2 linked regions of the Homo sapiens genome follow. The protein of the gene in region 1 purifies or fractionates together with the protein of each later gene. This does not show direct contact. Each region holds a gene or a part of one and is shown on either strand. Other genes may lie near its edges.

What was found.
Region 2: the proteins of UBXN1 (region 1) and BTBD9 purify together in Homo sapiens (affinity purification with mass spectrometry; 4 studies listed by BioGRID and IntAct, with this or other methods). This does not show direct contact.

The regions. Positions count from the first base shown.
Region 1 is NC_000011.10:62,676,066-62,683,691, reverse strand, and holds UBXN1 (UBX domain-containing protein 1), read left to right. Parts: upstream 1-4,618; 5' UTR 4,619-4,768; coding exon 4,769-4,827; intron 4,828-4,948; coding exon 4,949-5,002; intron 5,003-5,090; coding exon 5,091-5,197; intron 5,198-5,283; coding exon 5,284-5,353; intron 5,354-5,573; coding exon 5,574-5,765; intron 5,766-5,859; coding exon 5,860-5,911; intron 5,912-6,057; coding exon 6,058-6,174; intron 6,175-6,686; coding exon 6,687-6,879; coding exon of another isoform or gene 6,880-6,974; exon of another isoform or gene 6,975-7,052; coding exon 7,053-7,102; 3' UTR 7,103-7,192; downstream 7,193-7,626.
Region 2 is NC_000006.12:38,587,930-38,594,963, reverse strand, and holds part of BTBD9 (BTB/POZ domain-containing protein 9), read left to right. Parts: intron 1-588; exon of another isoform or gene 589-628; coding exon of another isoform or gene 629-636; coding exon 637-1,000; intron 1,001-2,123; coding exon 2,124-2,388; intron 2,389-7,034.

The sequences.
Region 1 (7,626 bases):
CGCTGGGCTTAATGGCTCAACCTGTAATCCCAGGACTTTGGGAGGCCAAGGTGGGCAGATCACTTGAGGTCACGTGTTCAAGACCAGCCTGGCCAACATGATGAAACCTCATTTCTACTAAAAATACAAAAAATAGCTGGGTGTGGTGGCGGGCGCCTGTAGTCCCAGCTACTCGGGAGGCTGAGGCAGGAGAATCGCTTGAACCAGGGAGGCAGAGGTTGCAGTGAGTTGAGATCGTGCCACTGCACTCCAGCTTGGGTAATGAGTGAGATTCCATCTCTAAAAACAAAAAAAGAATACATATGTTATCCTGAATACACTTGTTATAATACTGCAGTGAATACCCTGTGCCTTTTTTCCTTTTTTTTTTTTTTTTTTTTGAGACGGAGTCCCTGTCTCCCAGGCCGGAGTACAGTGGCGTGATCTCCACTCACTGCAAGCTCCGCCTCCTGGGCTCACACCATTCTCCTGCCTCAGCCTCCTGAGTATCTGGGACTACAGGCGCCTGCCACCACGCCCAATTTTTTTGTATTTTTAGTAGAGACAGGGTTTCACTGTGTTAGCCAGGATGGTCTAGATCTCCTGACCTCGTGATCCGCCCGCCTCAGCCTCCCAAAGTGCTGGGATTATAGGCATGAGCCACCGTGCCCGGCCTTCCTTAGCATTCATTTATTTACAAATAACGAGAGGTCATACTATCTCATTATTATTACTATTTATTTATTTCATTTTTTGAGACGGAGACTCTGTCTCAAAAAATAAATAAATAAAATAAAAAAATAAAGCCCATGCTTGTCACTCTACCGTGGAGAGGCAACATAGCATAGTGGTTTAGAGAACACACACTGCCTTGGGTTGAATCCTAGTTTTGTTATTTACTTTGTGACTTTAGGTAAATTATCTCATCTTGGCTGGGCATGGTGGCTCACACCTGTAATTCCAGCACTCACGCCTGTAATTCCAGCACTCACGCCTGTAATTACAGCACTCACGCCTGTAATTCCAGCACTGGGCATGGTGGCTCACGCCTGTAATTCCAGCACAAGGCAGGGGATGGCTTGAGCTCACAAGTTCGAGACCAGCCTGGGCAACATAGCGGAAACCTACCTCTACTATAATAAAAATACAAAAGTTAGCCAGGTGTGGTACATGCTACTTGGGAGGCTGAGGTGAAAGGATGGCTTGAGCCTGGGAGAAGGAGGTTGCAGTGAGCCAAGATTGTGCCACTGCTCTCCAGCCTGGGCAATAAAGCCAGACCTTGTCTCAGAAAAAAACCCATCTTTCCTTTTTTTTTTTTTTTTTTTTTTTTGAGACGGCCTCTTACTCTGTCACCAGGCTGGAGTGCAATGGCACAATCTTGGCTCACTGCAACCTCCGCCTCCCAGGTTCAAGTGATTCTCCTGCCTCAGCCTCTCAAGTATCTGGGATTACAGGTGTGTGCCACCACGCCTGGCTAATTTTTTGTATTTTTAGTAGAGAAGGGGTTTCACCGTGTTAGCCAGGATGGTCTCGAACTCCTGACCTCATGATCTGCCCGCCTCAGCCTCCCAAAGTGCTAGGATTACAGGCGTGAGCCACCGTGCCTGGCCAAAAAAAAAACATCTTTCTGAGTCTGTTTTTTGTTTTTTTATTTTTTTTTCTTGAGACAGAGTTTCACTCTTGTTGCCCAGGCTGGAGTGTAATGGCACGATCTCGGGTCACTGTAATCTCCGCCTCCTCGGTTCAAGCAATTCTCCTGCCTCAGCCTCCTGAGTAGCTGAGATTACAGGAGCCTGCAACTATGCCCGGCTAATTTTTATGTTTTTTTAAGCAGAGATAGGGTTTCACCATGTTGGCCAGGCTGGACTCGAACTCCTGACCTCAGGTAATCCACCCGCCTTGGCCTCCCAAAGTGCTAGGATTATAGGTGTGAGCCACCATGCCTGGCCTTGAGTCTGTTTTTTTGTGACTAAAAATAGCTTCTACATCATAGGGATTGTTGTGATGATTAAATATGGATTAATCATACAAAATTCTCTAGCAGGCCGGGCACGGTGGCTCACGCCTGTAATCCCAGCACTTTGGGAGGCCGAGGCAGGTGGATCACCTGAGGTAACAAGTTCGAGATTAGCTTGGCCAACATGATGAAACCCCTTCTCTACTAAAAAATACAAAAATTAGCCCGATGTGGTGGCGGGTGCTTGTAATCCCAGCTACTCGGGAGGCTGAGGCATGAGAACAGCTTGAGCTTGGGAGGCAAAGGTTGCAGTGAGCCAAGATCCCACCACTGCACTCTAGCCTGGCAACAAAGTGAGACCCTGTCTCTCTCACACACACACACACACACACACACACACACACACACACACACACAAGTCTCTAGTGCATATATTATCAATATCAGTAACTGTTATTGTCATTATTACTCTACCTTCTAATAAACATTTAAAGTGAGCTTCACTTTCAGGAATCTAACAGCCCGGGTAGTGGTGGAGCACAAAGTAATCAACAGTGACTCACAGCAGTGGGGATAAATGCTTAATGGGTTAAATACTGTAGCTGGAAGGCAGACAGCAGTGGTCAAAGCAGGCTTTTCTTAGAAGGCAAATCCTGAATCCTGAAAAACTCCTGGGAGTTAGTTTACTAAGTGAAGAGACAGGACATCCTAGGCGGAGACTGGTTGGTGCACAGGCCAAGAGGAGGGTGAAGTCTGGTTTGCAATATGCACAGCTTACCCTCAAGTGGTGGGTGATGAAACTGCACAATAACTACCAGCATTTACATACTCTGCCTTGCCAGGCACCAAAGTAGGTGCTATTGTGATCTCCACTTGAGAGGGGGTTCTAACCCCCCTCCCCGCAAAAAAAGCCAAGGTGGGCGCAGAAGGAAGTCAGACCACTAGCATTTAAGTTGTCCCAGATGGCCGAGTATGTAGCTCACGCCTTTAATCTTAGCACTTTGGGAGGGCGAGGCAGGTGGATCACTTGAGCTCAGGGGTTGGAGACCAGCCTGGCCAATATGGCGAAACCCCGTCTCTACAAAAAATAGAAAAATTAGGCCGGGCGCGGTGGCTCACACCTGTAATCCCAGCACTCTGGGAGGCCAAGGTGGGTGGATCATGAGGTCAGGAGTTCAAGACCAGCCTGGTGAAGATGGTGAAACCCCGTCACTACTAAAACTACAAAAATTAGCCAGGCGCGGTGGCAGCCACCTATAATCCCAGCTACTCGGGCAGGAGAATCGCTTAAACCCGGGGCAGGCAGAGGTTGCAGTGAGCTGAGATTGTGCCACTGCACTCCAGCCTGGGTTACAGAGTGAGATTTTGTCTAAAAAAAAAAAAAAAAAAAAAAAAAAAAGGAGAGAGAGAGAGAAAAGAAAAAGAAAAATTAGCCGGGTGTGGTGGCATGTGCCTGTAGTCCCAGCTACTTGGGAGGCTGAAGTGGGAGGATCGCTTGAGCCCAGGAGGCTGAGGTTGCAGTATGTCAAGATTGCACCACTGCACTCCAGCCTGGGCGACAGAGCCAGATCCTGTCTCAAAAACAAAAATAGCTGGGTGTGGTGGCTCACGCCTGTAATCCCAGCACTTTGGGAGGCCGAGGTGGGTGAATCACCTAAGGTCAGGAGTTCGAGAACAGCCTGACCAATATGGAGAAACCTCATCTCTACTAAAAATACAAAAATGGCTAGGCTCGTTGGCTCACGCTTGTAATCCCAGCACTTTGGGAGGCCGAGGCAGGTGGATCATATGAGGTCAGGAGTTCAAGACCAGCCTGACCAACATGATGAAACCCTGTCTCTACTAAATATACAAAAATTAGCCGGGCATGGTGGCGTGGGACTGTAATCCCAGCTACTCAGGAGGCTGTGGCAGGAGAATCGCATGCACCCAGGAGGCGGAGGTTGCAGTGAGCCGAGACCGCGCCACTGCACTCCAGCCTGGGCGACAGAGCGAGACTCCCTCTTAAAAAAAAAAAAAAAAAAAAAAAAAGCTGGGCATGGTGGTGGGCGCCTGTTATCTCAGCTATCCGGGAGGCTGAGGCAGGAGAAATGCTTGACCCGGGAAGCGGAGGCTGCAGTGAGCAGAGATCGCGCCACTGCACTATTGCACTCCAGTCTGGGCAACAAGAGTGAAACTCCATCTCAAAAATAAAAAATAAAAAAAAAAGTAAGTTGTCCTAGATGGTGGAAGTGTCACGGATTTTTAAGCAGGGAGGTGAAGACAGGACTACATGATTGTGTTTTGCAAAAATCCCTTTGGCAGTCAGGCAGAGGATGGCTCAATTCCCTAAGGAGAATGAGTGGGCCAAAGAGCAAGACATTTCTTCTGCTCCTGGCAAACATTGCCAAAGAACTTCCCAAAGCATTGCGCTAAGGGACCATATTCCTTCTAATTTCTAAGGAGGGTGAGGCAGGATGAAGTTCCGGGAACTGGCTTCATTCCGCCCACGGGTTTCAGAGCCGCACCAGCTTTCTTCCCCACAGCAGCCTGGCGCCTTGGCTTGGTGGGTTGCCTCCCTGTTCCCACCCACGGAAAGTCCTGGCAGCAGGGCCAGAAGTTTTATGGTTCTCAGCGGCACCCGTCGACATCCGCCCCCACGTGACCCAAACAGATCCGGCACTTCCGCTTCCCCTCGGCTTTCTTCTCGTCGGTGTTCCCGGCTGCTATAGAGCCGGGTGAGAGAGCGAGCGCCCGTCGGCGGGTGTCGAGGGCGGGTTGCCTCGCGCTGACCCTTCCCGCCCTCCTTCTCGTCACACACCAGGTCCCCGCGGAAGCCGCGGTGTCGGCGCCATGGCGGAGCTGACGGCTCTTGAGAGTCTCATCGAGATGGGCTTCCCCAGGGGACGCGCGTAAGGGAGTTCCCCAACCCCGGCCTGCGGGTGTGGGGGGTCGCGGACCTGTCTCGGCCTTTGCCCCAGCCTGACCGTCACCATGGCTCGTGGGCGCTATTCATGGTGTTTCTGCCCCCAGGGAGAAGGCTCTGGCCCTCACAGGGAACCAGGGCATCGAGGCTGCGATGGACTGGTAAGCGCTCGTCCCGGGTGGCGGAGAATTGGGGGCTGGCGGGAGGGGCAGCCTCAAAGCTAACCTCCCCGCCCACTTTCCCTGCCAGGCTGATGGAGCACGAAGACGACCCCGATGTGGACGAGCCTTTAGAGACTCCCCTTGGACATATCCTGGGACGGGAGCCCACTTCCTCAGAGCAAGGCGGCCTTGAAGGTCCTGACTGAGGGTCCACGGTGTGATTATTCAGGAGGGTCCGAGGAGAATCTGAAGGGATAATAATACCGATTGTTTGTTTGTAGGATCTGGTTCTGCTGCCGGAGAAGGCAAACCCGCTTTGAGTGAAGAGGAAAGACAGGAACAAACTAAGAGGTACAGTAACAACAATCTCACGTGTCTGAGGGTCGTCTTCCATCTCTCCCCAGTACACGTCTGGTCAAAGAACCTTGACCTTTCCACATTTCCTCTTTCTTGGCATTTTCTTTTCCTTTAATCTACTTTGGGATATATGTCGCCTAATTTTGTTTATTGTAAACTTTACACCTTCCCACTCTGTCCATTTCTCTTGAACTGTTTTCCCTCGGCAACACAGGATGTTGGAGCTGGTGGCCCAGAAGCAGCGGGAGCGTGAAGAAAGAGAGGAACGGGAGGCATTGGAACGGGAACGGCAGCGCAGGAGACAAGGGCAAGAGTTGTCAGCAGCACGACAGCGGCTACAGGAAGATGAGATGCGCCGGGCTGCTGAGGAGAGGCGGAGGGAAAAGGCCGAGGAGTTAGCAGCCAGGTCTGGGCAGGGGAAATGATGGATAGCAGATGAGAAAGAAATCAAGATTTGCTTTGTTGATGTCTGACCTAATTTCTTCTTGTCTACATTTCAGACAAAGAGTTAGAGAAAAGATCGAGAGGGACAAAGCAGAGAGAGCCAAGAAGGTAGGTGACTGAGAAGACGCCACGGGTAATGGAGTGGGCAGGTTAGTAAATCTTTTCCAGCTTCAGAGGGAAAGCATGGGCTTATATGATCTGTTTCACCTGAGGATGGGTGAGTACCTGATTGACTGTTTTACTTTGCCCTTTAGTATGGTGGCAGTGTGGGCTCTCAGCCACCCCCAGTGGCACCAGAGCCAGGTCCTGTTCCCTCTTCTCCCAGCCAGGAGCCTCCCACCAAGCGGGAGTATGACCAGTGTCGCATACAGGTACTGATTCTAATTCTTATCTTCCTCTTGGGACCCCTTTGTTCCGTGTTAAGGTGCCCAGCTCAGAGCTTTTTTCAGTTAACGTGCCCTTTGCCAAATCTCTCCCTTCTTTGTAAATGACTTTTGAAATCCTATCTCTACTCTTGGGAAAGGTATCAAATTTCACCTGCCCCAGTTGTATTTAAACCCATACCTCTCTCTTACTCAGCAGTTACCCTTTTACTTGTTCATGTTTTTATTTGGTTTATTATGTAGCTATCTGGTGATGTGGTATTTATCCAGATTCTTTTGTATAATCTTATCCTTGTCTTTCTTAGGTTGTGAGGGAGCTGGGAGTCTCTCATCCGCACTTAGTAAAGCGGAGCCTAAGTGGCTGTTCATTTGGTGCTTTAAATAGTAGTTGTGCTGGTTCAATCTAAGAAGAAGGGGGCCCAGCTTTAGCTCTTTTCCTTACTTGGGCACCTCATTCAGTTTTGATGCCCACAATACTGAGTATCTCCCTTGCCCTTTAGGTCAGGCTGCCAGATGGGACCTCACTGACCCAGACGTTCCGGGCCCGGGAACAGCTGGCAGCTGTGAGGCTCTATGTGGAGCTCCACCGTGGGGAGGAACTAGGTGGGGGCCAGGACCCTGTGCAATTGCTCAGTGGCTTCCCCAGACGGGCCTTCTCAGAAGCTGACATGGAGCGGCCTCTGCAGGAGCTGGGTATGGCTGCAAGACTAGAAACCAGGACTAGAAACTGGGGGAGTAGGGAGGCATGCCTAGGAAAAGGAGGGATGCAAAGAGAAGGGGCTTTGTGAACATGGTGCAAGGCCAGGAATTTTGGGAGCAAAAACCAAGTATCCTTGTGGTTCAAGCCTGTTTTCTTCCATCTTCAGGACTCGTGCCTTCTGCTGTTCTCATTGTGGCCAAGAAATGTCCCAGCTGAGGGCCTTTGTCCCATTGTCCCTCTGTGACCCCTTCATCTTTGATAAAGCACTGACATCTCCTTCCTAATAAATAGACCCTGAGTTCTGTACATGCCTGACTCCTTCCTGAATGGCTGGGAGGGACAAAACTAAGGCAGAGGAAGAGGCTAAAACGGAACAGTAGACCCTCTTCCTCATCTTTAGTTTCCAACAAAGACACTTGTTTGTAATCTCTGGGTCTGATTAACTGCTGGGGAAGTTGCGGAGGAGAGGTGCTAAAAGGGGTGGAGAGTACATTGGATGGCACCTTTTACTCCTATGGTAAGACAGAAAATAAAAGCCCAGCTGCTGCTTTTTTATTTTTATTTTTGAGACGGAGTCTTGCACTGTTGCCTGGGCTAGAGTGCAGTGGCGCAATCTCAGCTCACTGCAACCTCTGCCTCCCAGGTTCAAGCGATTCTCCTGCCTCAGCCTCCCTAGTAGCTGGGATTACAGGCACCCACCACCACGCCCAGCTAATTTTTTCCATTTTTAGTAGAGACGG
Region 2 (7,034 bases), on another chromosome or scaffold:
CAGTATGTTTTCTTACACATTTTTCTTTACTGTATTACTTCCCTAGAATTGAGTCCTAAAAGAGAGATTACTGAGTTGAAGGGTATGCACATTTTAGATTTGACTAGATGCTACTAAATTACTTTCCATAAAGGGCTGCCATTTATACTCTCAAAGCAGCATATCAAAGAACATGTTTTTCCATTGCTTTTGCAGCACTGATATTAACAAGCCTTTTAATTTCTGCCAGTCTTACAGGGGAGAATGGCATCATATTAGTGTTTATCTGATTATATCTTTTCCTATAGAGTTTTACTTTTTAAATTGCCTTATTGACCTTTAACATCTTTATATCAACTTCATTGTGCCTCTCAAAAGATCACTCTCATCTTTCTATTTAATATCTGTCACATATCTTGAGCTTTCAGAGTATCTCATTAGTTCAGTGGCTTACAGAATTAATTCAAATAGTTTTAAAATCATTCCTCTTGTGTCCTGTAAAGAACCATTTTAAATGATTACTTTGCATTTTTTCACTTGGATCTTTGTGTCATTAAAAAAATTTATATTTGCATAATGTTGATAACTGTTATTTCCAATATTTTGTAGCAAATCCTATTTGAGGGTTTCTTCATGTGTTTCTTCCCTGATGTGCAGAGCATTATTATATGGTGGAATGCGAGAGTCTCAGCCTGAAGCAGAAATTCCTCTCCAAGACACCACTGCAGAAGCATTCACAATGCTACTCAAATATATCTACACTGGGCGGGCAACGCTGACAGATGAGAAGGAGGAGGTGCTGCTGGACTTTTTGAGCCTGGCTCATAAATATGGATTTCCAGAGCTAGAGGATTCTACCTCTGAGTATCTCTGCACCATACTTAACATTCAGAATGTCTGCATGACTTTTGATGTTGCCAGTCTCTACTCACTTCCCAAGTTAACTTGTATGTGCTGCATGTTTATGGATAGGAATGCTCAGGAAGTCCTCTCAAGTGAAGGTTTCCTCTCCCTTTCTAAGGTGTGTCATTTGTCTACAAGTAATTTATAGGCATGCATTGTTTTATTTATACCTATACTGTAGAAGTATAGCAATGGACTAAGAATAATAAAAAAAATCATTGGTATCAAAGCGTTATCATTGGTTATCTGGTCTAGCCACTTGCATCTAGCTACCAGGACTCTAGATCATAAAAGAGAGGGGCTGGTTGGTTGTGTTTTCTTTTAAGGTTCTTCAGGTAAGTTTTATGTGCAAAAGAGACTGTGCTGCTGTGTGGTTGTTTTCAAGGTAGTGACAATCAAATAGGGTCCTTTTTGGTATTGCATACTACCTTTTGGTTTTGTTTTTCTCTGACAGAGAGTGTGACTAATAATTCCTTAGAGCAAGCAGGCAAATTCATAGAGGAGATCTGATGCAACATTTGATGTCTTTAAGTCCCTGCTTTTTTTGCTGGCTTAAAATTCAGTATTATAGCTAGAGTAAAACTGTTTTGCTCAAATCTTCCTTTGAACTCTGGGTAGTGATTGTCTCTCCATTTGCCTTGTTGTGTTCCTTCTAGAACCTGGATATTTCTAATGAGAAAAATCTATTGAAAAGCTACATATCTTGATTTGAGTGTAAATTAAGATCTGTGTTATCCTATTTCATTTTTTTCTACTTAATTTTTAAAGACAATGATCTTTGAGGGTTGCAACATTGTTCCTGGAGGTCAGTTTGGAGATCTGAGAGCCAAAAGTATGGTAGTGAAGTAATACTGTGGAACAAAATTTGAATTTTAAATGCCAAATATGTCTTTCTAACTTAACAATGTACACTCTCTTGAAGAATCTGAATGTATTGACAGCTTTTCACTTTGGCGTTTTTCTTTTTGCTGTTTTAAAAAAGATGAATGCAGATGTGTTTGGAAAGATTAAATGTTTGATGTAGTGGTACAAGATACCTGAACATAAAAGAATGGTGCTACCGTCTTGGTTGTTTACACAGCCATAATGAGTAGGAGAATATGTGGCACAAAGCATAAGGGAAGGAGAGGGTCAAAAAGAGTTAATTGGCTAAGTTATACTTGTCCTGTAAGCTTTTACTGATTGGTCATGCAGTGGTTGAACTTCATATAACTGGAATTTTACCTTTTTATCCTTTTCAGACAGCACTTTTAAACATCGTGTTAAGAGACTCATTTGCAGCTCCCGAAAAAGATATTTTCCTAGCCTTATTAAACTGGTGTAAGCACAATTCAAAGGAGAATCATGCTGAAATCATGCAGGCTGTGCGTTTACCTCTCATGAGCCTCACAGAGCTTCTGAATGTTGTGAGGCCTTCAGGACTGCTGTCTCCTGATGCCATCCTGGATGCCATTAAAGTGCGATCTGAGAGCCGGGATATGGACCTCAATTATAGAGGCATGCTCAGTAAGTACCTGTCTATCCTAAACTCAACCAAGAAGCTTGGTATGCCTCTCATGCCATTAAAACCGCAAAGCTACTACAGAACCGTGTAGTGCAGGTGTACATGAAATATGTACGTTTATAAACAGCTAGCCTATGGAATGTCTTTCCCTTTCATTTTCCTGTTAATTCCTCCTGAGATTGATTAGCTTTTGTAGACCCCCAAATAGGTATTTCTTGCCATTCCTGGACAGATTTCTCAACTCCTCCCCAGAATGTCAGAAATGGACACTTTCCTAAAAAGCTGCTGCTCATGTTAAGACCTTTTCTTCCTTCCTCCATCAAATAAATACTGAGTACATTCTATGTACTTATTATTTTGGGTACCATGAACATGGAGATTCTTTTTTTTTTTTTTGAGATGGAGTTTCACTCTTGTTGCCCAGGCTAGAATGGAAGTTGCAATCTCGGCTCACTGCAACCTCGCCTCCCAGGTTCAAGCGGTTCTCCTGCCTCAGCCTCCTGAGTAGCTGGGATTACAGCCACCCGCCACCACACTCGGCTAATTTTTATTTTTAGTAGAGACGGGGTTTCACCATGTTGGCCAGGCTGGTCTCAAACTCCTGACCTCAGGTGATCCACCTGCCTTGGCCTCAGAAAGTGCTGGGATTACAGGCATGAGCCACCACGCCCGGCTGAACATGGAGATTCTAAATAACAATAATAATAGCTAACACTTATGTAACATACATACATAAGGTAGCTAACACTTATGATACTTATCACCACTTAAGTGGTGATTTTTCTTATTAATGGATTTATAGCAATTAACACTTACAGAGTGCATAGTATGTATCAAGAACAGGTCCTACACGATTTAATTCTCACAACTCTTTGAGGTATATACTGTTATTGACTCCATTTTACACAATGAGGAAACTGAAACAGAGAAGTTAAGTAACTTGCCCAAGGTCACACAGAAAGATGACAGAGCTGAGAGTCAAACCTATGTAGTTTGGCTCCAGAAGTTGTGTAATTAACCACTAAACTATGCTGCATAATTGTTAAACATAGTCTCTGCCTTTGATCCTTTTAATTTCATTGTGGAAATAAGACATAAACTCCCATGAAAAGTTAAATACAACAATATTCAAGGGAGTACATGTTATAGAACTTCAGAAGAAGTGGCTTGGTATGGTTGAGGGAGATTTCATGGAGGTTATGAAGCTTGAGTTGAGCCTTGACATTTGATTTGAATAGTATAAGAGTTGGGTGAATTTCAGATGGGAAGAATCATGAGGTTAATAGACAGAGGTTAGAGCATTTGAAGAGACCATAAATAGAAGAGCTTGATTAGAGTAGAAGGCTTTTATTGATTAATAGCAAAGAAACTATGTGAAGGTCAGCTTAGGCCAGTTTATGGAAGTCTTGGAAACTAGATTGGAATCTCCCTTACATGCAGTGAGGAACCAATTTGAGAGAGGGAGAGTGGCATGCATGCAGTGGTGGTTTTGAAAGACTGATCCATAGTGCTGTATTTGAGTATTTAGAATAGGGGAAAACTGATTCAGAGAGACCAGTGAGGAGAGTATTTAATCTGTGCACAATTGATACTACCTCAAACCAGATTGGTGGCAGGGAAAATGGAAAATAATGGATGATTAGAACGGATACAATGGAAAAAAATAGATCTTGATGATTCAAGGGATATAAATGTGGGGATTAAGTTTAGGAGAAAGTTACCATTTGTTATCAAATCTAAGAAGCCAGAAATTCTCAGGCACCATTATTTTATGTTCCACTAAGAAAAGAAACAATACTGCCAATTAACTGTGACACACTATGATGTCTACACTGCGATTTCAGAAATTTAAAAATTTGAACACTAGGTATGTCTGTAATGAAATACAGTACAGTACTTCTTTGAAGAAGATGCTGAGCTTGATTTTTAGATTGAGTTTGAGGGTTTTGGGGTTGCAAGTTGTAACTTCTGTCCCAAACTAGTCATTTCCCTGAGTTATCTCTTCTTGACTATGCCTTTAAACATTCTCTTGAAATACTGATTGATCTTAAATAGATGTTCTTAACAGAATTCTCTCCTGACTTATCAGGTCTAGATTTCTTTTCACTGGGCATAGGAGAAGAAACATAGGTTTTGGCCCAGACAAATTTGACTTCAAATCCTGAATTAGTCACTTACTAGTTGTACAATCTGGTATTAAATTATTTAAGGAATTTTACCTTTTATATCTCCTAGCATTGTTATGAGACTTAATTAAAATAATGTGTGCAAGCTCAATATAGGAAACCATTGTTACCATATATCATTATGATGTGTTTTTTTTTCTGTGTATATCTGTGTGAGAATTACCACCTTGATCACATTGTTTTAAACATTTTTGTTTACTTGTCTTTGATCCTTGAAGGCAGAGATGATCTTTATAGGCCTTATTGATCTCTATATCCTCAACATTTAACACACCAAATAGCATATAATGGGTAATTGGTGAATGCTTGGTGAATGCTTAGTGAATGAATGCAGGGAGAAATGTCTAATAGGAAATAGGAACACATTACTCTTTAGGACCAGTCAAAGCTGGTGATAAAAGAGTTGAAACCTGAGCTGCTAGAGTATAGAAAAAGAAGTAAAAAACAAAGTCTGAAACTTGGAGAAAACCTATTGCCAGGGGACTTAAGGTAGAGAAGGAAGAAGGAAGACATTTGGGATAGAATAGAGTTACAGAGGACAACCGGAGGAGAGAGCTTTCCTATGGATCCAATGGTCAATGGTAGCTCACGATAGGGAGGTCAAGAAAATTGAGAGACAACTTTTGGATATAAATTGTGATTAGTTGATAAGTAATCTGGACAGAAGATTGGCTGCCAGGGAATTAGGCCATGGATGTTTGAAAAGATAATAGAGATAACATATTGTCTGTCTGATTTGTGAATTGGATTGTAAGGTAGTAAAAAAATAGTATGGTAGCTAGAGAGATCAGGTTGGGAGAGGTCCAGGAAGAAATCAGAGGTGCTAGAGAATGGTACTAGTTAAGTGTCAGCCTTGGATAAAGTGTGGGAGGATGGCAAGTGAAGAGGTAGTAAGATGAGTAATTAGTGTTAGGCTTTTCAAATTATCATGTCGGATCCTGTCTTATATAAGTTCCTTTCCCTCTCTTGCCCTGCATTTGATTTGAAGTGCTGAAAAGGCCCTAGAACTGGATTCATTATAGGGATAATCTTGGGACATGTTTGCAGGAGTGAGGATTTGTTTTGGACATTTCACATGGTTACTGGTAGTTTGGAATTGATCAACTGGTCAGTATAAGGGTAGTACCTGGGTTACAAGAAACTCAGGAGATGAGTTGCGAAAGGGAGAACTTAGCCAGTTGAGTCACTCAGTTCTGGAATGACACATACACAGATTGTTGTTCATCAATGTTAAATTCTTCACTTTGAAGTGAATGAGGGGGAGCTCAAGGAAGAGACTATGTAAATGTTTGGGAATCCTTTATCTAACTTCTGAACTTGAGTAATGATTAAGTAAGTCTGTTTTTCCTGACTTTTAAAGCATGTGAATAATAAAATCAATAATATAAATACAAGGAAGCATTACACTTCCCTGTCAGACCCTGAAAAGATAGGTTTTTTTAATTCAATCATCTTTATTAATCTATCAGTCTTACATTTTATACATGACATCTAGTCGTATTCTAAAAGGGCTCTACTTTTAGTACATCATGTTAATAGCAGAAAGCCAAGTAAGATGACTAAACCTTACACTAGCATTTTAATATCCTCTGGACAAGGGAAGCTAGGTCAATCACTTTACATACATGTAAGAGTAGTGTTCCAAAATAACTAAGAAGTTGCTATATTTTTAAGCAGGGAGGAAAGAACTTTGATTTTGGTCTTTGTGTTCCAGCAAATTATACTTTCAATTAACAGCAACAAAGATATAACAAATGCTCTGCTTTTAAAATTTGTGAACTTCATTACAGATTAAAACAGTACTGGAGTCTTTTGGGAGGCCAATAGCTAGCAGCTACATTAATTGGTGTAGATAAGCCTCGTTATCGATAACCAGGTCCAGGTTTGGTATAGCCCTGACCAAAGGGAGGACATATAAGGATTAGGCCCAGTTGGAGGAGGGGTCATGCTACTTACAGGAAGTGAAGTAAAACTTGATCTTGGTCTATAGGCCCCAGGTTGGCTTGGAGCCATTCTAGGTTGAGAGGCAGGGGCCACAGTATAATTAGTAGGCTGAAAAGTTTGGGTAGTATAAATTTGTGCAGGATAATTGCTTGCCTGGTACTGTGTGGCAGCTGAGCAGGCAGTTGTTGAGGCTGACCAAAAAGGCAGGAGCTGGTGCCTGGGTAGTTGGTTGCTGGCCATATCCTTGGAACTGCTGAGGTTGTTTGGAGTCCAGTCTGCTGACTCTGGCTTTTTGAATACTGAATACCATACTGTTGAGGCTGCTGAGGTAGAGCCCGCAGACACGGTGCACCATAGCTAGCCTGTTGCTGGTACTATTGATACAGCTGACTTTCAGTCTGACCTGCTTGTATCTTAGCTTCTGTATATGGTGGTTGCTGTGGCTGAACTCCTGGTGGGTGAGCTGCTACTGAGGAGGAGGCGGCAATGCTGTCAGATGTTCCTGAACAGTCTTCTGC